Linked DNA regions of Homo sapiens. The protein of the gene in region 4 interacts with the protein of the main gene of each other region in a biochemical or structural test. Each region holds a gene or a part of one and is shown on either strand. Other genes may lie near its edges.

What was found.
Region 1: the proteins of NFIB (region 4) and ETV7 form a complex in vitro, tested with the Homo sapiens proteins (one study listed by BioGRID).
Region 2: the proteins of NFIB (region 4) and ELK3 form a complex in vitro, tested with the Homo sapiens proteins (one study listed by BioGRID).
Region 3: the proteins of NFIB (region 4) and LHX2 form a complex in vitro, tested with the Homo sapiens proteins (one study listed by BioGRID).

The regions. Positions count from the first base shown.
Region 1 is NC_000006.12:36,365,694-36,370,711, forward strand, and holds the end of ETV7 (transcription factor ETV7), read right to left. Parts: intron 3,379-5,018; coding exon 3,236-3,378; intron 1,283-3,235; coding exon 1,182-1,282; intron 1,070-1,181; coding exon 952-1,069; 3' UTR 501-951; downstream 1-500. UniProt on the Homo sapiens protein: Transcriptional repressor; binds to the DNA sequence 5'-CCGGAAGT-3'. Isoform A does not seem to have a repressor activity. Isoform C does not seem to have a repressor activity.
Region 2 is NC_000012.12:96,246,366-96,253,407, forward strand, and holds part of ELK3 (ETS domain-containing protein Elk-3), read left to right. Parts: intron 1-574; coding exon 575-1,369; intron 1,370-7,042. UniProt on the Homo sapiens protein: May be a negative regulator of transcription, but can activate transcription when coexpressed with Ras, Src or Mos. Forms a ternary complex with the serum response factor and the ETS and SRF motifs of the Fos serum response element.
Region 3 is NC_000009.12:124,028,732-124,033,807, forward strand, and holds the end of LHX2 (LIM/homeobox protein Lhx2), read left to right. Parts: intron 1-3,688; coding exon 3,689-3,976; 3' UTR 3,977-4,570; downstream 4,571-5,076. UniProt on the Homo sapiens protein: Acts as a transcriptional activator. Stimulates the promoter of the alpha-glycoprotein gene. Transcriptional regulatory protein involved in the control of cell differentiation in developing lymphoid and neural cell types.
Region 4 is NC_000009.12:14,081,341-14,087,176, reverse strand, and holds the end of NFIB (nuclear factor 1 B-type), read left to right. Parts: 3' UTR 1-5,329; downstream 5,330-5,836.

The DNA.
Region 1 (5,018 bases), on a different chromosome or scaffold from region 4:
AGCATCCACATACAGTCAGAGGTGCTGAAAGAAAACAGGTCGAAGCCCTGGGTTGTGGAGAGGCGGGCCAGCTCCACAAGCCTCTCCCTCAGTGTCCTCATCTTCACGCCTGAATGCCGAGTGAATTAAATGAGATAAGATATCCACAAGGCCCTTAGCACAAGGCCTGGCACATAGCAAACACTTAAGAAACATCGGCTGGACGCAGTGGCTCACGCCTGTAATCCAAGCACTTTGGGAAACTGAGGCAAGAGGATCACCTGAGGTCGCAAGTTCGATACCAGCCTGGCCAACATGGTGAAACCCTGTGTCTCTACCAAAAATACAAAAATTAGCCGGGTGTGGTGGTGGGCAGCTGTAATCCCAGCTACTCCGGAGGCTGAGGCACGAGAATCTCTTGAACCCAGGAGGCGGAAGTTGCAGTGAGCCGAGATCGTGCCACTGCACTCCACCCTGGGTGACAGCGCAAGACTGTCTCAAAAAAATAAAAGAAAGAAACATCAGCTACCATTGTTTTTATTGTTACTGAGGCTGTCAGTGCCGCCTGGAAGCACTAACACTTTTTCCCATTTCCTGCCTCAGCCCATTTCACAGGTGAGGAAATCTGAGGCTCAGTGAGGGACTTCATTCCCTTCATCTGGTAAATTCCATTTACAGGGGTGGGGCTGGGTGCTCTATCGGTGCCTGGCTTCCTCTCCCAGGGGTGCAGTAGGGGAGAGTCCATTCCCCTGTACCTCATTTAGCCCCAGGATTGCCCTGCCCAAAAGATGACACTCCTGCCCCCAGTGTCCTGGATGGGAGGCCTCCCAGCCTTCCCAAGCAATGGCTGTAATCCTGTGGGTACAGAGTCTGGCTGGGGATCCTGCTGCTCTGCTGGGAGGAGGAGTCTGCCTTCATGGGAGACTCGGTCCCTGCCCCATCGGTACCGGGTGCCTGGAGTCCACCTGCCCCTCACGGAGAGATTTCTGGCCTCTTGTCCTTGAACTCTATTCTGTCCTGCTCCTGGCTCTCCAGCGGCTCCAGGTGGCTGTGCTTGTCCTGGACCATCTTTCCCGGAGTCTTTAGAAATCTAGAATTCAGGCCCCAACTGCAAATCAGCTCCTGCCCCAGCTGCAGGGGGATTCCAGCCCACCCAACCCCAGTTCTGCTTCCCCTTTCACCACATCCCCTAGGCCACTCACCTGAACAGGAGTTTCTGCCCCGGTTCCTTCTTAATGATATTAAGCTTATAATAGTGGCGCAGGGCACGAGACATCTTCTCGTAGGTCATGTTCACCCGGTTCTGGAAAGCAAAGCAGCCCCACATCAGCCCCACTCCCCATGTCCTGCTCCTTCCACACCTGGAAGGGAGTAGGGTGGACTGGACAGCTTCTTAAGCCTCTCATTCCAGGGATCTGTGAGGGTTTATGAGTGCTCACTTGAGTTTGGAAGGAAAAAGGCAGGGGAAGGTTGGGGAAGAAATGATGGGGCTGGGCAGGGTGGCTCACACCTGTAATCCCAACACTTTGGGAGGCCTAGGTGGGCAGATCGCTTGAGGTCAGGAGTTTGAGACCAGCCTGGCCAACATGGTGAAACCCTGTCTCTACTAAAAATACAAAAATTAGCCAGGCGTGATGGTGCGTGCCTGTAGTCCCAACTACTCAGGAGGCTGAGGCAGGAGAATCCCTTGAACCCAGGAGGCAGAGGTTGCAGTGAGCCGAGGTCATGTCACTAGACTACAGCCTGGGCAAAAGATTGAGACTCCATTACAAAAAGAAAGAAAGGAAGGAAGGAAGGAAGGCGAAAGGAAGGAAGGAAGGAAGGAAATGATGGAAAGGTTCTCCTGCCTACTTGGCTGAGAACATAGTGTGGGAGTGAACTGCATGTTACTTTTAAACAGCAAATGTCACAACAGTAACAAATAAATATATATATTTGTGGGAAATGCAATCAGAGAGACAGTATGGTGGGGTGGCATGGATGGCCTTGCCAGGCCACACCCTGGGTGACTTTGGCCAAGTCATTTCTTTCTCTCTCGGGGGTAGGCAGTGTGAGGTAGGGCCAAAGAGCCTGGGGTGTGGCATCAATTTAAGCCCCAGCTCCACCGCTTGTCAGCTGTGTCACCTTGGACAAGTTTCTTGACCTCTCTGAGTCTGCTTCCCCAGCTACATAATGAAAAGGAGAACACCCATCGCATAAGTCAAGGATTAAATTATTAATAGCTAATCCATGAAAGCAGTTAGCACAGTGTATGGCATGTAGTATATGCTCATTAAATGGGACTGCTGCTCTCTGGGCCTGTTTTCCTCCCTGTTCTATATGAGGATTAGACCAATAAGTCCTCCCGAACTTTAGTCATCTGCATCCTTCCAGCCACCAGCACTGCTAAGAGCAGTATAATATAGTGCAGCACATGGCCTGGGTTCAACTCCCTGTTCTGCCTCTTACATAGCAGGGGATGGGTAAACTTGGGGCAAGTTGTTAGCCCTCACTGAGCCTCAGTCTCCACATCCGACAACACCTACTTCACGAGCTTGGTATGAGGATTAAATGAATTAGTACAAGTGGAGCCCTCAGGGCAGTGCCTGGCAATCAGGCACATTACATCTTAGGAAAGGCTATAAATCGATGATTATCATTATCGTTAATAGTTTTCTTTAAAAGATTTTTTTTACTTAAAGAAACCTATTTATTTTAAAAGGCTACATTCCTTATATCACTGCTGTAAATCATGAGATGGTCATGGTAGTTACATTTTGTAATCCTAATTCAAAAATAATTATGAGGATATTAAACCACCTAAGATCATCTTACAGACACCCATTTAGGTATAGGCATTCCTCATCATGGGAATGCTGGCCTCAGTCATCCCCAGGCCTTTCCAGCCCTGACATCAGATGCTCCTGTTGGGCCTGAGACCTGGGTTTCTGTCCAGCTCCCCGCAGGAAAGCAGCTTCCTCATCTGGCCTAACTGTGCAGTTCATGTAAACATGCTTCTAAAGCCTGAAATACTAAGCAAAGGTAAGATTAAGCAATGAGAAGACACAATTGTTCAGTTTCAGAGACATTCCCCATCCATAAGAGGTAACTGCCTGTCCCTCAATAGCTCCCCAAATAAAATTATCCTGTCACTTTTGGGGCTGCTGATGAAGGCCCCATCAGCTGAGGATTGTCCCATAGTGCTAGGGGTCCACTCTGACCCCCAACTCTGTCCCCTTCTGGTTATGTTGAGACCATTCTGCTGGCCGAGGCTCACCTTGTGATTTCCCCAGAGTCTGGCGAGCCCATTTGGATCCACAACTCGGAAGATCTTGGCGTCCTTGTCTTCCCACTTGATGTAGGGCTCATATCGGGTATCAAGGAGCAGCTGATACACGTAATCCCACAGCAGGCGGCAGTCTGCAATTTAGCACAGGGAGTGCAGGCAGCGCAGCTTTACTGGAGCTGTGAGGACAGGTGTTAGAAAGGCACTCTTGGAAGCCTCCCGGCCAGAGCCCTAGGAGCACCAGCAGGAAGGTGAAAATGATGATATCAACAGAAACAGCCACTAATGGGGCTCCTCACGCATTGTCTCAGGCAGTCTTCCTGAGTCTGGGAAGTCGTTACCTTTATCCCCAGGAAGAGGTGAGGAAATGGGCTCAGAGGTGCAGAGGTATCTAAAGTTGCCAAGCTCCTAAGTGGCAGGTAGAGCAGGGAGTCTGACCGGCTCCACCCAGCATCAGAGCCATGTGAGGGCAGGTGCTGGGCCCACAGGCTGAGGGGCTGGGCCCCTGACCCCAGGTCCCTCTCTGCCCCTGGCCCACTCACTCAGCCCCCTGGACTTCTATTAATTATAACATCCACCCCTTCAAGCTCCCTAATGGTGAGGCTCAGGAAAACCAGGCATGCCATTGGGAGGGCAAGTGGGCATCCGGGAGCAACTGTGTGATCTGAAATCCCAGGACCTGGGCCTGTCGGCTGGGCCATTGCAGGCAAGTTACACAACCTTCTCTGAGCCAGCTTCCTTGTATGGGGTGGTGAGAGAATTAGGTAACATAATAGACCACAAAACCCTCAGCACAGTGCCTGGTATACTGTAAGTGCACGAAGAATGTTAAGCATTATAATTGAAGAATTCAGTAATTGCAAGAGGCTGAAGTGGGAGGATTCCTTGAGCCCAGGAATTTGAGGCAGCAGTGAGCTATGGTGGCATCACTGCACTCCAGCCTGGCAACAGAGTGAGACCCTGTCTCTTAAAAAAAAAAAAACCCAGTAATTGTGGATCATTGTGTTTGTTATTGATACATAATATTTATGCATGTTTCTGGCGTCCATGTGAGATCTTGTTGCATGCATAGAGTGTGTAACGATCAAGTCAGGGTACTTAGGGCATCCATCACCTCAAGTATTCATCATTTCTATGTGTTGGGCCAATTGTTTTTTAGTGACTTCTAGTCATTTCCAACCCAAAAGCCAGGCTTCTGCCCACTCTGTGGCTTCATAGAATAAATGTGGTGTGGACATAACAATGGGAACAATAGACACTGGGCACTGGGGACCACTACAGGGGAAGAGCCAGGGTGGAAAAAACTACCTATCACAGGCCGGCACGGTGGTTCACGCCTGTAATCCCAGCACCAAAGGAGGCCGAGGTGGGTGGATCACCTGAGGTCAGGAGTTCAAGACCAGCCTGTGGCCAACATGGTGAAACCGTCTCTACTAATAAAACAAAAATTAGCCAGGTGTGGTGGTGGGCGCCTGTAATCCCAGCTACCCAGGAGGCTGAGGCAGGAGAATCGCTTGAACCCGGGAGGCAGAGGATGCAGTGAGTTGAGATCATGCCACAGCTCTCCAGCCTGGGCAAAAGAGCCAGACTCCCGTCTCAAAAAAAGAAAAGAAAAGAAAAGAAAAACTTCCTATCAAGTACTATGCTGAGTACCTTGGTGACAGGATTATTCATACACCAAACCTCAGTGGCACGCAATTTACCCATGTAACAAACCTGCACATGCACCCCCTGAACCTAAAATAAAAGTTGAAAAAAAAAAAGAATAAATGCA
Region 2 (7,042 bases), on a different chromosome or scaffold from region 4:
CTTCATAAATGGCAGCTGTTACTATGTTATTACATAGAATAATCCTCACTCGGCCAAGGTTGGGGGATTGCTTGAGTCCAGGAGTTTGAGACCAGCCTGAGCAACCAAGTGAGATGCTGTCTCCACAAAAAATAAAAATGTAAAAATTAGCAGGGTGTGGTGGCATGTACCTGTAGTCCCAGCCACTCAGGAGGTGGAGGCAGGAGGATTGCTTGAGTCCAGGAGGTTGAGGCTGCAGTGAGCCATGTTCGTGCCACTGCACTCCAGCCTGTGCGACAGAGTGAGACCCTGTCTAAGAAATCATCATCATCATCATCATCTTCCTTACTTTACAGACGAGGAAACTCAAAGTGGCACTTAATTTGCCAAAGATCACAAAGATCTAGTAATGGCAGAACTGGAATGCACATCTAATTCTACTTCCAACTTCATTCCTCCTTCCACTTTTCCTTAGCCAAGAATGTAAATCAGGAACATTTTGGTGCTTCTGCCAGCGACATTTACCATTATCATGAGCTCTTACATGGTTTCTCGGGTGCACTCAGATTTTCAACGTCTACTTTTGTATTTGCAGAACATCATCAAGAAGGTGATCGGGCAGAAGTTTGTGTACAAGTTTGTCTCTTTCCCGGAGATCCTGAAGATGGATCCTCACGCGGTGGAGATCAGCCGGGAGAGCCTTCTGCTGCAGGACAGCGACTGCAAGGCGTCTCCGGAGGGCCGCGAGGCCCACAAACACGGCCTGGCCGCCCTCAGAAGCACGAGCCGCAACGAATACATCCACTCAGGCCTGTACTCGTCCTTCACCATTAATTCCCTGCAGAACCCACCAGACGCCTTCAAGGCCATCAAGACGGAGAAGCTGGAGGAGCCGCCCGAAGACAGCCCCCCCGTGGAAGAAGTCAGGACTGTGATCAGGTTTGTGACCAATAAAACCGACAAGCACGTCACCAGGCCGGTGGTGTCCCTGCCTTCCACGTCAGAGGCTGCGGCGGCGTCCGCCTTCCTGGCCTCGTCCGTCTCGGCCAAGATCTCCTCTTTAATGTTGCCAAACGCTGCCAGTATTTCATCCGCCTCACCCTTCTCATCTCGGTCCCCGTCCCTGTCCCCCAACTCACCCCTCCCTTCTGAACACAGAAGCCTCTTCCTGGAGGCCGCCTGCCATGACTCCGATTCCCTGGAGCCCTTGAACCTGTCATCGGGCTCCAAGACCAAGTCTCCATCTCTTCCCCCAAAGGCCAAAAAACCCAAAGGCTTGGAAATCTCAGCGCCCCCGCTGGTGCTCTCCGGCACCGACATCGGCTCCATCGCCCTCAACAGCCCAGCCCTCCCCTCGGGATCCCTCACCCCAGCCTTCTTCACCGCACAGGTAAGAGTCATTCCTGTCATCTAAGCCACAGCCAGCTTCAGTGGCTTAGCAAAAAAGGAAGAGCAACTAAAGAGACTTCCTTCTGTCCCTCAAAACGTTGTCCTATGACTCGTACCGAGGTCACTGTGTAAATGTGAAGGGAAGCTGCTTTTCCATCCTCAGACCAAGGGGTGCACATGAGACAGGGTTTGGTTTGTCGACTCTAGTGGGATGCTTGATTGGTTTCTTGCTTTTAGCGGCCTAAAGTGACCATAGGTGGAACACGCACACTGGCCGACAAAGCAGATCTCACCAGCGATTTCCAAGGGAAAGTTGAGCGGGCCAGTTTACATTTCGGGAGGCGCTTGGGCTTTATGAAATTTTTATGGCAGAATCTTCTCTGGGGGCGCTTAATAAGGAGCCACTTGTGTTCTGTTAACAAGAAAATAGATGTCAACTGATGCCGCCATCGCATGTCAGTGTGGAGCTGTGGTCATAGCGTAGGTAATAAGAAACAAAGGGGCCACCCCAAACAGCTGCTTCGCTGAAAGCAGCACTACTCTGAGAAAGCCCCAGTCCACAGCACTGGCGAGAGGACAGCAAACTTGCAGAGCCAAAAAAGCCTTCGTTGTTATTAGTCCCAAAGAGAAAGCAGCCTTTTCCTTTAAATCAGATATTCAGATGCTCTTTCTTGTCCAGCTGACAATTGCAGTGCAAAGGCGTAGTAGGTGCTGGGAAACCATATTTCTCCTTCCCCTTGAAAATTGGATGCAATTTTAGTGGCAGAGGTTAAAAGAGTATTCGTTTTAGGTTCACAGACCTGCATTCAGTTCCTGGCTACCCTGCTTCCTAGGAGTGGGACTGTGGGCGGTTGCTCTCTGGGCCAGGTTCCATGTGTGGAAAATGGGACCATGGACAGGCTTTGTGAGCTGGGGACACCTGGTAGCATTGTTAACCGTGGAGCTGCACCCGTCCCCTGCCTCTGTAATCTCATCGTAGTTGTCCCTGTTGTCATTAGCAGCAGCCGCGGCAGCATATGACGGGCTCCCCACGTGTGCCAGGCACTGCTCCAGATGCTTTACATGCATTGCCTGTATCCACACTTACAGCAGCCCTGTCACGTGGATACAGGTTGAGCATCCTGTTTCCAAAATGCTTGTGACCAGAAGCATTTCAGAGTTCAGATGTTTTCAGATTTTGGAATATTTGCATGATACTTGCCAGTTGAATATCCCACATCTGAAAATCTGAAATCCAAAATGTTGCAATGAGCATTTCCTTGGAGTGTCATGTCAGGACTCAGAAAGTTTCAGATTCTGGAGGATTTGGGATTTGGGAATTTTTGGATTTGGGATGCTGAGCCTGTGCTATTATTATCATCCTGTTTCCCAGCTGAGATAAATGAGGCACAGAGGTAAAGTAGTTCGTCCAGGGTCCCACAGCCAATAGGTGGTAGAGGTGGCTTTGGATCCAGTGTCTGCCTCCAGAATCCATGCTCTCAAATGAAATGCATTCCCGCTGCGAGAAGGCAGTGTCCCTGATCACGATGGCCGTCCATGGAGCACCTGAAAGCAGCTCTGGGCCACTGTCCTCTCCACGCTTTCTCTGGACTGGATTCTGCCCAGGATTTCATGACAGCTCAAGCCTGTGAGCTGGTGGTGACGCGCGCCACTGCGGAGGGGGAGGGCCAGGGGATCAGGATATAGGTCAGAGTGAGCACGTGTGCTCTTAAATCAGGCATCTTCCAGTTAAGCAAGGCTGTCCAGTGACCAAGGGCTGCTGAGCAAATGGCTCAGAAACAGCAGCTCCTGATGTAGCTCAGGGGAGTATCTTGAGAGGCAGGGCCAGGGTAGATGATCTGAGCATCTCCTCCCCTGGCCTCCTGTGTGTTTACAACTGTCAGGGTGAGAAAGGTCCGAAGCCAGGCCAGGGCTGACTCTGATTTAGGTGTCTGTGTTCCCTGGGAGCCTGGATCACCTTCTCAGAACAGAGTGAGGCAGATGCCAGCCCTGTCTCAGAGGAAGTCAGCTCAGCCAGCCCTGTGGATAATGTGGATGGAGTGGTGGCTCCCATCGGTGGGGCTGAGGGCGTGAGAGAAGGATCAAGGGTGGATGCCCAACAAATGGATGCAGAGGGCACGACCAGGAGCCAGAAGCCACCAGCATGGCCTGAAACTAGGTGGGAAGGCGTAGGAAAGCCAGGATCTTTACAAGAGGACCTGTGCCTTAGGCAGTGAGGGTGCCTGGTCCTCAGCCAAGCTGTGAGGGTGGGGCTGTGATGATTTAGTGCCAGGAAGCCCAGAAATGGTCCTGAGGGGAGGGAGGCAACAGGCAGCATCTGGACCCAGGGCAGGAGAGTGGAAGTAAAGGGACCTGGCTCAGAGAGGGCCTTCGGGTCAAAGGAGGAGGAGGGGCACCAGGCAGTCCTCTAAACCACGCAAAACTAAGGGGGTCACCAGCTACACTGGGAGATGGTAGAGCCTCGGGACTCAGACCCCACTTTGAACTTCCCTCACATTCCCAGAGTGTGGGCTCTGCTCCTGGCATGGCCATGGGTGGCCAACAGGGAGGGAGAGAAGGGGCAATGAGGGAGACACCAGAGGGGCCCGGGTGGTAGTCAGGGGTGTGGTACTTATTCAGAGTTGAGTTCTTGCAGCCGGTTTCACCCAGGCGGATTCCCTGAGATCAGATAGGATATCTTGAAGCCAGGGGTGGTTTAGGATTAGGGTATGTCAGTGTCAGATTTGGACTCTCAGATTCCCTCCCCTGGGAGCTGCTTCAGGGGGTGCCCCAGAAACTCACCCACCAGCACCAGCTCAGTAGTTTGTCTTCCAGGTGACAGCCAGAAACAGCGTGGCTCTCAACAGCCAGGCATTCTGTGGAATTCCTTTCGGCCTCAGGAGTGAAGGACAACTGTGGGGTTCAGGGTGTTCCACAGGCAGCAGTGAGGCTTCAGTGGTTTTCCTCTTACCTGAGCACTTTGTCACAGAAACTCTCCTTTTCTCTGTGTGTGGGGGGTGTGCTGTGTGCAGTGTGATGCTGTGTGCACATAAACATTTGATAATCTGTGGGCTGTCAGCTTTGCTTAGTGGTGGGCTTTGGAAGAGGTGAAAGCTGTGTGTGCTGTAATAACCCGATACCCTGAAGGTACAAATTCCGAAGGTTGGTTATTTCCAGCTAGAATCATGGCAGGAAGAAGGGGAGAAGTAAGGGAGCCTTGGCATGGCCTGTGTCACGTGGTTACCTTATCACACCTCATACAGGCATCCCTCATTTTACTGTACTTTGCTTTATTACGTTTCACAATTAATTGGTGGTTTTTACAAATCGAAGGTTTGTGGCAACCTGGCGCTGAGCAAGTCTTGTCAGCGCCAGTCTGTTCTTCCAACAGCACACACTCACTCCGTGTTTCAATGTCACATTTTGGTAATTCTCAAACATTTCCAACTTTTTCCTTACTATTATGTCTGTTATAGTGCTCTGAGATCAGCGAGCTTTGATACTACTATTGTCATTGTTTTGGGGCACCATGAACCACACCTGTATAAGACAGCAAACTTGATCAGTGTTGTGTGTGTCCCAACTGCTCTCCTGTGTCAAACTTGATCAGTGTTGTGTGTGTCCCAACTGCTCTCCTGTGTCTCCCTCTCCTTGGGTCTCCCTATTCCCTGAAACACAACAATTTTGAAATTAGGCCAATTGATAACCCTATAGTGGCCTATAAAGTGTTCAAGAGAAAGGAAGAGCTGCGCATCTCTCATTTTAAATCCAAAGCTAGAATGATGACGGTGAAGGCATGTCCAAAACCGAGACAGGCCTAAAGCTAGGGGGCTCTTATACCAGTTAAGTATGTAAATGTAAAGGAAGAGTTCCTGAAGGAAATGAAAGTGCTACGTCAGTGAAAACATGAATGATAAGAAAGTGGGACATCCTGATTGTTGATATGGAGAAAGTTTTAGTGGTCTGGATAGAAGATCAAACCAGCCACAACATTCCTTTCAGGCTAACCCAGAGCAAGGCCCTAACTCTTCAATTCTTTGAATGCTGAGAGAGGCGAAGAAGCTGCAGAAGAAAAGTGTGAAGCTAGCAGAGGTTGGTTCATGAGGTTTAAAGAAAAAAGCCATCTCCATAACATAAAAGTGCAAGGTGAAGCAGCGAGTGCTAATGGAGAAGCTGCAGTAAGCTGTCCAGAAGATCTAGCTACGCTCATTGATGAAGGTGGCTACGTCAAACAGCTTCACTGTAGGTGAAACGGCCTTCTACTGGAAGAAGATGCCATCTAGGACTTTCATAGCTGGAGAAGAGAAGTCCATGCCTGGCTTCAGAGCTTCAAAGGACAGGCTGAGTCTTGTTAGTACAGCTTGTGACTTTAAGTTGAAGCCAGTGCTACTAAATACACTCTGCCTGTGCTCTGTAAATGGAACAACAAAGTCTGGACGACAGCACATCTGTTTTCACAGTTTATGGAATAGTTTAAGCCCAGGTGAGACCTACTACTCAGAAAAAAGATTCCTTTCAAAATATTACTGCTCATTACAGTGCATCTGGTTACCCAAGAGCTCTCATGGAGATATACAAGAAGATTAATATTTTTCATGCCTGCAAATACAACATCCATTCTACAACCCAGAAGTCAAGGAGTAATTTTGACTTTCAAGTCTTATTACTTAATAAATACATTTCATAAAGCTACAGCTGCCATAGATAGTGATTCCTCTGATGGATCTGGGCAAAGTCAATTGAAAACCTTCTGGAAAGGAGTCACCATCCTAGATGCTATTAAGAATATTCATGATTCATGGGAGGAGGTCAAAATATCAACATTAACAGGAGTTTGGAAGAAACTGATTCCAGCCCTCATGGATCACTTTGAAGGGTTCAAGACTTCATTGGAGGAGGGAACTGCAGATGTGGTAGAAATAGCAAGAGAACTAGCATTAGAAGTGGAGCCTGGAGATGCAACCAAATTGCTGCAATTTATTGATCAAACTTGATTGGGTGAGTAGTTGCTTCTCACAGATGAGCAGAGAAAGTGGTTTCTTGAGATAGAATCTACTCCTGTTGAAGACGCTGTGAATATTGTTGAAATGACAACAAAGGACTGAGAATATTACATAACTTTACATTACATTACTTAGTTGATAAAGCAGCGGCAGGGTTTGAGAGGATTGACTCCAATTTTGAAAGAAGTTCTACTCTGGGTAAAATGCTATCAAACAGCATCACATGCCATAGAGAAATCTTTCATGAAAGGAATAATCAATTGGGCCAGGTGCGCTGGCTCACGCCTGTAATCGCAGCACTTTGGGAGGCCAAGGCGGGTGGATCACCTGAGGTCAGGAGTTCAAGACCAGCCTGGCCAACATGGCAAAACCCCGTCTCTACTAAAAGTACAAAAATTAGCCAGGTTTGGTGGCAGATGCCTGTAATCCCACTACTTGGGAGCCTGAGGCAGGAGAATCACTTGAACCTGGGAGGTGGAGGTTGTGATGAGCCGAGATCACGCCACCGCACTCCAGCCTGGACAACAAGAGCGAAACTCGCATCTCACCAAAAAAATAAATAAATAAATAAAAGAGTCAATCAATGTGGCAAACTTCATTATTGTCTTATTTTAAGAAACTGCCACAGCCACCCCAGTCTTCATGACTCTGCCTCCTTGTCCCTGGTTCTGCCCTGCTTCCTCCCCTGTCCC
Region 3 (5,076 bases), about 110 Mb from region 4:
GTCCTGGATTCCAGTCTCAGGTTGCCCTCTGTGTGACCTTTGGCAAGTGGTTTTACCACTCTGACCCTCTCTGGTTTTTAAATCTATACAGTGAGGGCAGGCACGGTGGCTCATGCCTATAATCCCAGAACTTTGGGAGGCCAAGGTGGGCGGATCACCTGAGGTCAGGAGTTCAAGACCAGCCTGGCCAACATGGTGAAACTCCGTCTGTACTAAAAATACAAAAAAATTAGCCAGGCATGGTGGCGGGTGCCTGTAATCCCAGCCACTCAGGAGATTGAGGCAGGAGAGAATCACTTGAACCTGGGAGGCAGAGGTTGAAATGAGCTGAGATCGTGCCACTGCACTCCAGCCTGGGTGACAGAGCAAGACTCTGTCTCAAAAAATAATAATAATAATAATAATAGTCAATAAATAAATCTATAAAATGGGAATAATAATAGTCGAATCCACCTACTTGGCTTTTCATGGGAATAACCTGTGGCAGTGCATGCTGGAGGGTGGCATGGAGCCTGGCACATAGTAAAAGGTACATACATGTCAGCCATTCCTATGAATACATATTACTGATTCTTAATCTCTGCCAGTCTCTGCCATGCACCGGGGGACATGAAGATAGCATAGAAAGGGTCCCTGCTCCCATCAAACTCTCAGGAGTGGACTTTTTGAAATACCTGGGAGAGAATTCTAGTGAAGCCCTGACAACATGAAGAACAAACCCCACACAACCCCAGAGCAGCCGGGCTTTTAATGAAGTTGTTGAATTTTCATCTACCAGATTCCCAGTGCCTCAGCTCTGGAAAGCAGAGAAGGTAGTTGTGGACGATGGTGTCATTGTTTACAAGCCCACTGTTAGGGGCAACAGCCTGAGAAATAGCAAACAGCCGGCAACTAACCGGGTCCAGCCCTGCCCGAGGTCTTGGAGCCCCGGATGGATGAGCAAATGAGCACCCGGCAAAGCACCCTCAAACCCTCGACCCAGGCTCCCCGCTCCAGCTACTGCTCTGAGAGTCAGACGCACAGAGCACAGGCTGCTCAGGGGTCACACGCACACAGGCCAGGACAGTGGCAAGGCAGCGGCACCAAGGCTCCGGCCTTCTCCACCCCAATCTGCATGACTTTGGGGAAGTCACTTCCTCTCTCTGAGGGCCTCTGGGGGCTTCCCCATCCATTTTCTTTAGGCCACCAGGACACAGTCTCTCCCCTACAGATTTCTGCTGGCCGGGAAAGGGAAGGACCCCCCCACCCCAGGGAAAGCATGTCAAGGGTGGTCTGAGAAGCACTGTACTTATTTGCCAGCCCCCAGAAGGGGTGATGGGCTTTCTTTGGGCGGAGAGCCAGGGAAAATGTGCCTTCTTCCTGGGAAGATCCAGCACTGAGGAGGGAGCTTGGTTTCTCCACTTCACAGGGTCTGGATCTCCCACTTTACTCCAAGATTCTTGTGGATTTGCTTTTAATTGAGCCCAAATTGTGTTACGCCACCAGAAACGGGGGTTTGAGGCCACAGGCCCCTGCAGCCGGGGTGGTCCCAAGGGGTGCGTGGGGCCAGGAGTCAGCCCTCCCTCTCCTGCCAGAGACACTGGGAAGACAGGCAGATGCAGGACATCTGGAAATGCGCAACTGGACACCCCAGAATCTGCAGAGTGCCCTGAGGCCCTTTGTTTTATGGGGAGGCTTCTGGCGGGTGTTTTCCTCACGCAAAGGGAAGTGAAGGGGCCCTGCCTTTCAGGACTTTTTCCTTGGAAGGTTCAACCCCCCCAGAGTGGCCTGGATTTCCTAAGCCCCTCCCAAAGTACTTCGTGGACCTCTGGGTACAGCGGGTCCCTGTGTTTGTGCTGTTAGATGGGTGGTGGTACTTAGGTGCTGGCTGTGTAGATGAATTTCATTTTTCTTTTCTTTTTTTTTTTTTTTTTTTTTTGAGATGGAGTCTTGCTCTGTGGCCCAGGCTGGAGTGCAGTGGTGGGATCTTGGCTCACTGTATCCTCCGCCTCCCGGGTTCAAGCAGTTCTTCTGTCTCAGCCTCCCGAGTAGCTGAGGTTACAGGAGCGCACCATCACACCCAGCTAATTTTTTATATTTTTAGTAGAGATGGGGTTTCACCATGTTGGACAGGCTGGTCTCGAACTGCTGACCTCAAGTGATCCACCTGCCTCGGCCTCCCAAAGTGCTGGGATTACGGGCTTGAGCCACTGTGCCCGTCCTTAGATGAATTTCTGTGTGTCTTCCTGAATGCTTACAGGCGTGTGTGCAAAGATATGGGAGTGGACGCGTGTGTGTCTGTGCCCAAGGAAAAATGAAAGTAAACCCATGTTCTCTCACTGACATTCTTTTCAGACAGAGCTCAGCCCCAGCTCTGCGCCCCGCCGCACGTCCCTCATAAGTCGATACGGGATGCAGCAGGTCGGGAGAGAGACTCTGCGGGTTTCAACTTCCCTGGCCTCACTTTAATTTGGCTGCCGTTCCCACGCTGCCTACCTCCACCCACCTCCACCCTGAGACCTGACACCCAGTGGCCCAGGGTACCTGGTGGCTCCCCCAACCGATGATGGGGATAGGTTCCGTGTCTTTCACTTCCTCTTAGTAACTCATTATTATTGCCTGATTCTCATGTGTTCTTTATCGCATTCCCAGACTTACTGACCACAAAACATTTAAAACATTTTACCAACAAGAACTTGTGGGGTTTATTGTCTGCTGAAAGGCAACTGCCAAAAAAGGAAAAAGAAAAAAAAAAAAGGAATGTCTCAAAGAACCATTAGGAAAAGGATCAAGATTTGTCTGGTGTGTGTGTTTGGTGTGTCTGATAGAAATGCAACATGAGGCACACATTTAATTTTAAGTTTTAAATGTCCTAGTAGCCTCCTTGAAGAAATGAAGAGAGACAAGTAAAAGTAAAATTAATTTTAATAATGTATTTTGCTTAACTCAGTATAGCCAAACTATTAATCATTTCGACATGTAATCAATATAAAAATTATTGAGATATTCTACCTGCTTTTTTTTTCATATTCAGCCTTCAGATAGGTTGTGTGTTTTCACCTGCAGACTGGTTGAATTTGGGCTAATGCCATTTTAAGTGCTCAGCAGCCATACGTGGCTCGTGGCTGTGATATTCGGGAGTACAGCTCAGCTCTGGAACCACCTATCAGAAAGAGAAGCCCAGCCGTAGCCCATTAGATAGAGTGAAATTTTTGTTTTATTTTATTAAGAGCAAAATATTGGCCAGGTGCAGTGGCTCACATCTGTAATCCCAACGCTTTAGGAGGCTGAGGCAGGAGGGATCACTTGAAGCCTGGAGTTTGAGACCAGCCTGGTCAACATTGCAAGACCCCGTCTCTACAAAAAATAACTTAAAAAGTTAGCGGGGCCGGTGGTGCTCACCTATCTATAGCCCCAGCTACCCAGGAGGCTGAGGCGGGAGGATCGCTTGATCCCAGGAGTTAGAAGCTGCAGTGAGTCGAGATTGTGTCACTGCACTTCAGCCTGGGGGACCAAGCCAGACCCTGTCTGCAAACAAAAACAAAAACAAAAAAACCAAAAAAGCAAAATATTGCCAACCTGACTTTTTGGATCCTCTTGGCAAAACACAGATCAGCGTCCCCAGAGGCAGCAGAGCTCTGAGTGAAGCAGTCGGGGGGATGCTCTGCCTGCCTTCCGCTCACCAGCCCTTCCCTGTCGTCCCCCGCAGGTCTGGTTCCAGAACGCCCGAGCCAAGTTCAGGCGCAACCTCTTACGGCAGGAAAACACGGGCGTGGACAAGTCGACAGACGCGGCGCTGCAGACAGGGACGCCATCGGGCCCGGCCTCGGAGCTCTCCAACGCCTCGCTCAGCCCCTCCAGCACGCCCACCACCCTGACAGACTTGACTAGCCCCACCCTGCCAACTGTGACGTCCGTCTTAACTTCTGTGCCTGGCAACCTGGAGGGCCATGAGCCTCACAGCCCCTCACAAACGACTCTTACCAACCTTTTCTAATGACTCGCAACCCCTCACCCCACAATTTCTTTAAAAAAGAAATTATCTTTAGTTGAATTCCAAGTGTATTTTAAAATAGAGGCTTTGAGCAACTAACTAACCACATTTTAGGATCTCGCCTGGAAACAGAGGTAAAAAAAAGAAGTGTGCGCCCGGCTAATGCAGCGGTGTGGACCGAGGAACAACTTGGAAGATCTACCTGCAACACAACATTTGTGTCACTGTACAGTTTTGTGGACTGAGCGAGGAAAAACAACAAATAATTTAAGTTGGCTAGAGCTTCTGTATTTTCAAAGACTGCCACGTGCCTTAGGAATACTGTTTTATCTCCATACTTTGGATGACTTGTTCATTTTTCTCTCCCTCTTTTTCTCTGTATATTTATGACCAGAGCAAAAATGTAAAAAACAAAAAAAACAACAAAAAAAGTTTGTTACTTTGAATAGTCCTAAAAAGAAAAAAAGAAAAAAAAAAAAGGAAAAATCAAACCCCCTCCAACGGTCGCTTTGTTGTTTTAGAATTTTAAGGTGGAAGTCTGTTCGAATATCAGAATTTGTAAAATCTAACCAGTAATAAAACCACTTATTGAAACTACTTGGGGCTGCTGCCATTTGGTTGGGTGTGAAATTGACAGGACCTAAGAGTTTTACTGAGGCCCAGAGATCAATTCTAGGTCTTCACATATTCATCAGATATTCCTGGGGCTCCTGTCTTGTGCCAGGCTTTGGACGGATTACAGAGATGCCGAGACAAAGATCCAATTCCTGCTCTCAAGGAATCAGAATGGTGACACGGGACAGACAAAAGATATCTTAACAGGGTGTGATATGTGCTCAAGTGGAGGATATGCAACATCCCATTCATTCATTCATTCATTATTCATTCATTCATTCTTTCAAATATTTAATGAGCACACCCTGCCAGATGCTTGTGATGCAGAGGTCAGAGGCCCTTTTCTGCTCCTGGCTGGGCTGGAAAGAAGGCATGTCAGGCGATGAGGGAGGCCTCCTGAAAAACCTGCAGCTTTTCCCTACGAGGAGTGAACGCAGTTAACAAAGGGCAGCTTAAGCTCCAGTTTTCCTAATGACACAAAATTTCAA
Region 4 (5,836 bases):
ACTGGTTGCATCAAGAACCCATAGGGTGTACAAAAGGTTCTATAAAATCTGCATTATAGAGACAAAGAGGCAGGCAAATCCATGTCACAAGGGTAAAGCTTACAGTTTACAAACTGGGAACGCCAGGGTGTAGGATATAAAAACGCACTCTTGAGAAAACAAATGTAATCAGGGTGCTGAAAACTTGCATGGTGCTTTCAGACATTAGCCTTGTTCAACAAATTTCTTGTATTGACAGATCCATAGTGTGCATGGGCAGACACATTTTGCCTCTATGTCTCTTAAAATTTTAATTAAAAATACTCTTTCCAGTAATCCTAATTTGCACGAAGATATAATGTCCACATTACGTGCCTTGCCTTGAAATCTAAAAAACAAAAAACAAAAAAAAAAAAACAAAAAAATACAACAAAGTGACATCACTACACTTGTTTTGCTGCATTTATTATCATTTTAAATCTTTACCATTTTTATGACAAAATATTTTGTACTCCAGACGAAGAAAAATGTGTGACATCATGGATTTTTTAGACAGTTATACCTTTATCTCACATTTATAAAGCATATCATGGCTGTGTATAGTTGCCGCTTAAAAATTGTAATCGACCAGCAATATTTTCAGTATTTTGGTGTTTTTTTCTATTAACCTTTCATGTTTTTCATCTTCCAATTAATATTTGGGGGGGAGGGGTTTCAAATTTATACGAATTATGCAATACCAAGTTTTGCCTATGTAGGTAGTGCTTTTAGCTGTATTGGTTATTATAGGTAAGTACACAGATTTAAAAAAAAAATAATGTATGCTTTTTTGTTTGTTTGTTTGTTTTAATTGACCAAAGTGGGTACTGCTATTTTTGCAGTGTGATGAGGTCCTTTTGTGTACTGAGAGATGGACAGGGGATTTTTTTTAATATACATATATATATATTCTGGGGTGGGTGGGAGGATTTTTAACACTTTGCAGTGTAGCTGTGAAGCAGTGCACCCTGAGATGGGCCTGGGCTGCAAAGCGACTGTTCTGCCTACTGTGACAAACTTCAACTTACACAGGTTCCCCTCTCTAACTTCCCACCTGGGTTGCAAGCTGAACTCATTACTGGTTTTCATAACAACACAATAGTAAGAACAAGCAAACACAACAAATTCTCCTGGAGGCAGACTTGGCTTAAAAAGGCAGACTTGGCTTGGTGATAGTTTTTCTTGAAAGTTCCAGATCCACAGTGGAGAGTGAGCCTGTCTCATATTTGGCAAAAATATTTGTTGAAATGTCCACATAGGGGATGTTGGATGTTTAACACTTTTGAGAGTTTAACACATGAATATTCTTTCTCCTAGAAAACACATTAGACCTGTTGGAGGGAGTCTCCCGTATTCCTTTTCTGCCACTTTTCGTCCCCATTTCATTTCATTAATGATAGGATATGATTTACCTGTGACTTACTACTTCAAATGGATGGCAGTGCACTTGGATTTTTTTTTAATATCCAGAAGATTGAACAGAGGGTTGCTATTGTTGAATGTATTTGGACTGATAGATTAAAATCAAAGTTCAATTTTTAAGGAACAAAAAAGTAAATCCTGTTTTCATTTTATCTCCCCTTTTAAAACTGAGAACCAGAGCAGAAGGGAAATATAGAATTTTAAGCAATTAATCTTCCTGTGGATGAATTAAACCCATTAGATGCTGATGGGATTTTTTTAAGGAATGGTACCTTAACTATATATTTGATTTCGTTTCCCCTGAGGGCTAGAGGCTGAATGGAGGCTGGTTTTATTTTGCCTTTCCCTCACCGCCCAGTCCCATTGAGTGTATTCATTACTAGAAGGAAAATCTTTCAGAATTGGTGACACATGGTAGGCTGTCTTAAGGAGTCCCCTGGCCCCCTTCCCCTAGGCCATGGCCTAATAAAATAAACTGTCAATTGTTCTCACAGCATATCATTTAATAATGAATACTTTAGAACAATGCTTATGGGCTGGAGAATTGTATTTGATTAGCCCATTCAGTTTGATAGCCCAAATGCTGAACAGCACAGCGGGATCCTAGCAGTGCAAGTTCAAAAGTAAGTCCAATCATTTCTGTGATACTCGCCCTGGTAGCAAACAGATCATCTCAGCCAAGCTCTTCATGTATCTTTGACCTATTAGGTGAACAAATGAACCTCACAGGACACACAGTATTTTTTAAAGGCAGACTCGCTCTCTTTTTTGCCAGTGAGCAGTTCTAGCTAACCAAGTTACACACTGTGGGTATTCCTGCCTGCCTCTTGAATACAAAGGCCTAGTTCAAGTGTTGCTTTTTTTATTTCAAATCAATTTTTTCTTCTTTCCTTTTTGAGATAAAACTATTAAAAGTACTACTATATATATAAAATCTCAAATCAACTTTTCGGCCTCCTCCTCGTGTACCAGGAAGTATATTCTGACGAAGGGCCCCACTTTTGCAGGTCTTGCACGCCCCTCCCTTACCCAGAACTGCAGAGCTTCAGGATGGCGAAGGTCACCCAAGGGCATGAGTAGGGAGTGGTGTCTCCAACCATCAGTTCCGTGGCACTGTTCAGCCTTTGTGTGCTGCCCTGCCACCCACCACTCACAGTGCCTCTGAAGCGTGTTACCCCTGGAGTGACGTGAGCATTTGAGGCTTGTCTAAGGAAAAAAATAAAAGGCAGTGAAGGAGACTGTACATAAAGACATGGCAAAAATCTTAATTATAGCAATATAGTTATCGGGTAATGTTCGGGTGGGCAGCTCCATTAAAAAATATGTGAATGAATCTGTGAAGCTGCAAGTAGCGAGAAGAGCGAAAGGTCTTCTTAATGAACCGCCTACCTTGTAGACAGTAATTTGTACACTGTATAGTTTTGTTAAGAATTTTTTTTAAATTAAAATTCCCATGTTTGTAAAGCTAACTTTTTAACAATTATAATGGAACTATATGTTGTTTCCATTTTTAAAGTAAACAAGAATATTCCTTGTTTAGAGACTGGACTTGAGTTAAAACTCTCCAGTCTCTTAAGTTATGTATTAAAAAGAAAATCTGTCCATGTTAGGAGTTATTTCACAGATTCCTGTGCTTGAAAAGCATAGGATACTAATCCTTTAAAAAAGTGTAAATGGAGAAAAGTTATATTTTATGAAGGTTATTTTGTTGTATTTAGTATTGGAAAAGTTGGTTTCCAGAGCATTTCAGAATGTCGAAGCACCACTGTCTTTTTATTAGTATATACGGCCTTTAGCAAAAGTTTTTGTGATTGTTACGTGATGGTATTTAAGGTTAAGTTTCACAGAGCATTCAGGATAGGCAGAAAACTAAAACAGTGCTATGTCTCACATAACGTGTCCTCAGGGAGCAGAATCTTGGATTTGTGACTTGTAGCTTCATAAGGACTCAACGAAAGAGATTGCACAGGGACATCTTCAGCGGTGTGACAGCAGGACATGTTCTTTACCTAGATTCAAATTCTATGTACTGTGTGAAATGATGAAGGCTGCAGAAAGTTATCCCATATTCAGTGTACAGTATTCATTTTTAATGAAACAACTCTACAATATTGCTGGCAGATAGGCCCCAAGCATGACATTCAATATAGTTTACATGTTCCTGTCAAGGTCTTTTGTTAACATTAACCAGCTGCATGCTTTCTGGACTTTAAGAAATTGGGTTTCTATAGAAAACTTTTTTTTTTTTTTTTTTTTTAATGTGCAGGCTATTCAAGTTCAATAGTAAAAGCTCAAAAATGAATGTTCTACTCCATGCTGAAGGAGCTGAAAGCTGCCTTCTTCATATTTTGCACTTTCTGGTAGTTCCCCTGTTTTTTCTAATTCCCTAAAATTGTGTGGGTGGAGTGGAGCCCTGCAGTTGGGGGGTAACATGGACCACTGATTTTGCCCTTTGACCCTGCACAATGACCTTTGCATCAGCCAAACTCATTGCCATGACAACTCTTTGTACTGTGTCCGTGCCACAGATCTGTTGGTCACATTGTTAATAGTAAAGGGGACAAGTTGGAGACGGTCAATTTTTACATTTTTTGTTGCAATTTTTTCTTCAATGGTTGTAAGTAGTTTTTTTTTTTTTTTAATAATAAAAGGGTTCACTAGTTAATACTCTAGAAATATCTGTGTGTTGCAATTCAAATGTATGTTGAGATTGTGAAAAGCGCTTCAGTGCCACTAGCTTACCGGTACACTAGACTAAGCCCTTGATGACTTATTGCATGATACAGTACCAGGAACAACAGGTGGCCTAAATACATGAAAAGCAGTGTAAGCTAGTGACACTAAAGCCAGTCTTGTATTACTGTATTTTTGACAGAATGGTTTTGAAAACTGTGCTACAGGGACTGATGTGGCAAATATATCTCTTTATGCAGAAGGAAGTCTTTTTTTTTCTTTTTTTTTTTTTTAAGAAGTATGGCTTTTTATGCATCCTTCATCGAGGGCATTGAAGTTGCATGGACTGATAAAAGTTGATGCAAAACAAGAAAGAAACAAACAAAAAAAAAAAACCAGCAAAATGTTTACCAAAAAACTCAAACAAATGAGCAGTGCCTGTTCAATTTCACAGTCTCTGTTGAGTTCAGTTGTAAATATGTTTCAAATGACATTTTCTTGGGAAAAAAAATCTCTACAACATTGTAGAATGTGAGGGGTAACTACATCCCAGGCATAGGTTTCTCAAAGCTGCAGTAGATTATGTCTTCATCAAGCTGTTAATTTGTGCTTATATCATATAGAACTTTTAGCATCCTGGGAAGAGCTGCCCCCACCTCAATGATATTTCTCTGAGAACAACTTTTGTAGGACTGTGTGTTTCTTTAGATACATTTAGTACAACTGTAGGTGACGAGTAGTCAGTTATTGCTTGCTAGCTACACACCAGGGTTGATCCATTTTAAAACTTTTGGCATTTTGTCCTCATGGGCCATAAATACAGAACCTTGTATTTTAATTAAATTTTTTTACAAAAGGAGGCACATGCACAATCTCCATGTAACAAACCTTTAGCAGTAGGATGTATTATACGACAGTTACTTAATTTCTAGAGTTCAGGCCTCTGGGATCAACCCCAGACTGGGCCAGAATGTTAGTGAAGGTTTTATTGTGCCCGGTTGGAGGATAACGTTCTTTGGGTACTTTTTGTGGGTTGCAAATGAACTCAATTGCCACAAGTTTTAAACTGGTGTAAATCAAGCTTGACTTAATGTGATTGTTACTGTTATATCCAGCCTATACTGCTAGCAGCTGCTCATACTGCAGTCAATTACTGGAAGCGGATATATTTCCTATGCAAAAACTGTTTAAACAATAAAATGAGCTATGCTACAGACTCTGGCCTCATGTTTTATTTTTCTCCTCATCGTCTCCTTGCTGTTCTGCCTACATTAATGTTGGGTCAGTAGTGTCCCAGAAATTGATCTTGGCCCTTAACTTTGGGGGTTTTGTAGCACTGATTTAATTATTAGCATCTGGGATAGTTAATATTTCAGTTCAATATTTAACCGTATATCTGTGTATATCTATATAATCCTTCCTTGCAGTTCCTAATAAATACAGTCATCCCAAGCTTTCTAAACAATGACAGTAAAAAAAAAAAAAAAGAAAGTGCAGTTATAGAATCGCAGACCTCACTCTCTGAGAAAGGCCTTTGAGCAATACGTTGAAGACGATGTGTGCCATGATGACTGGACTGTGGTCTCTGTGAGAGAAAAACCACAGGGCATCAAACACTGAACAGAAAAGGTAAGCCCCGGGGACACCCTGTGGCTGTGGGTTTAGTGGTTACATGAATACTGCAGGAGAGCAATTTCTTCCTGCAAATGCCTGAAAAGGAGCA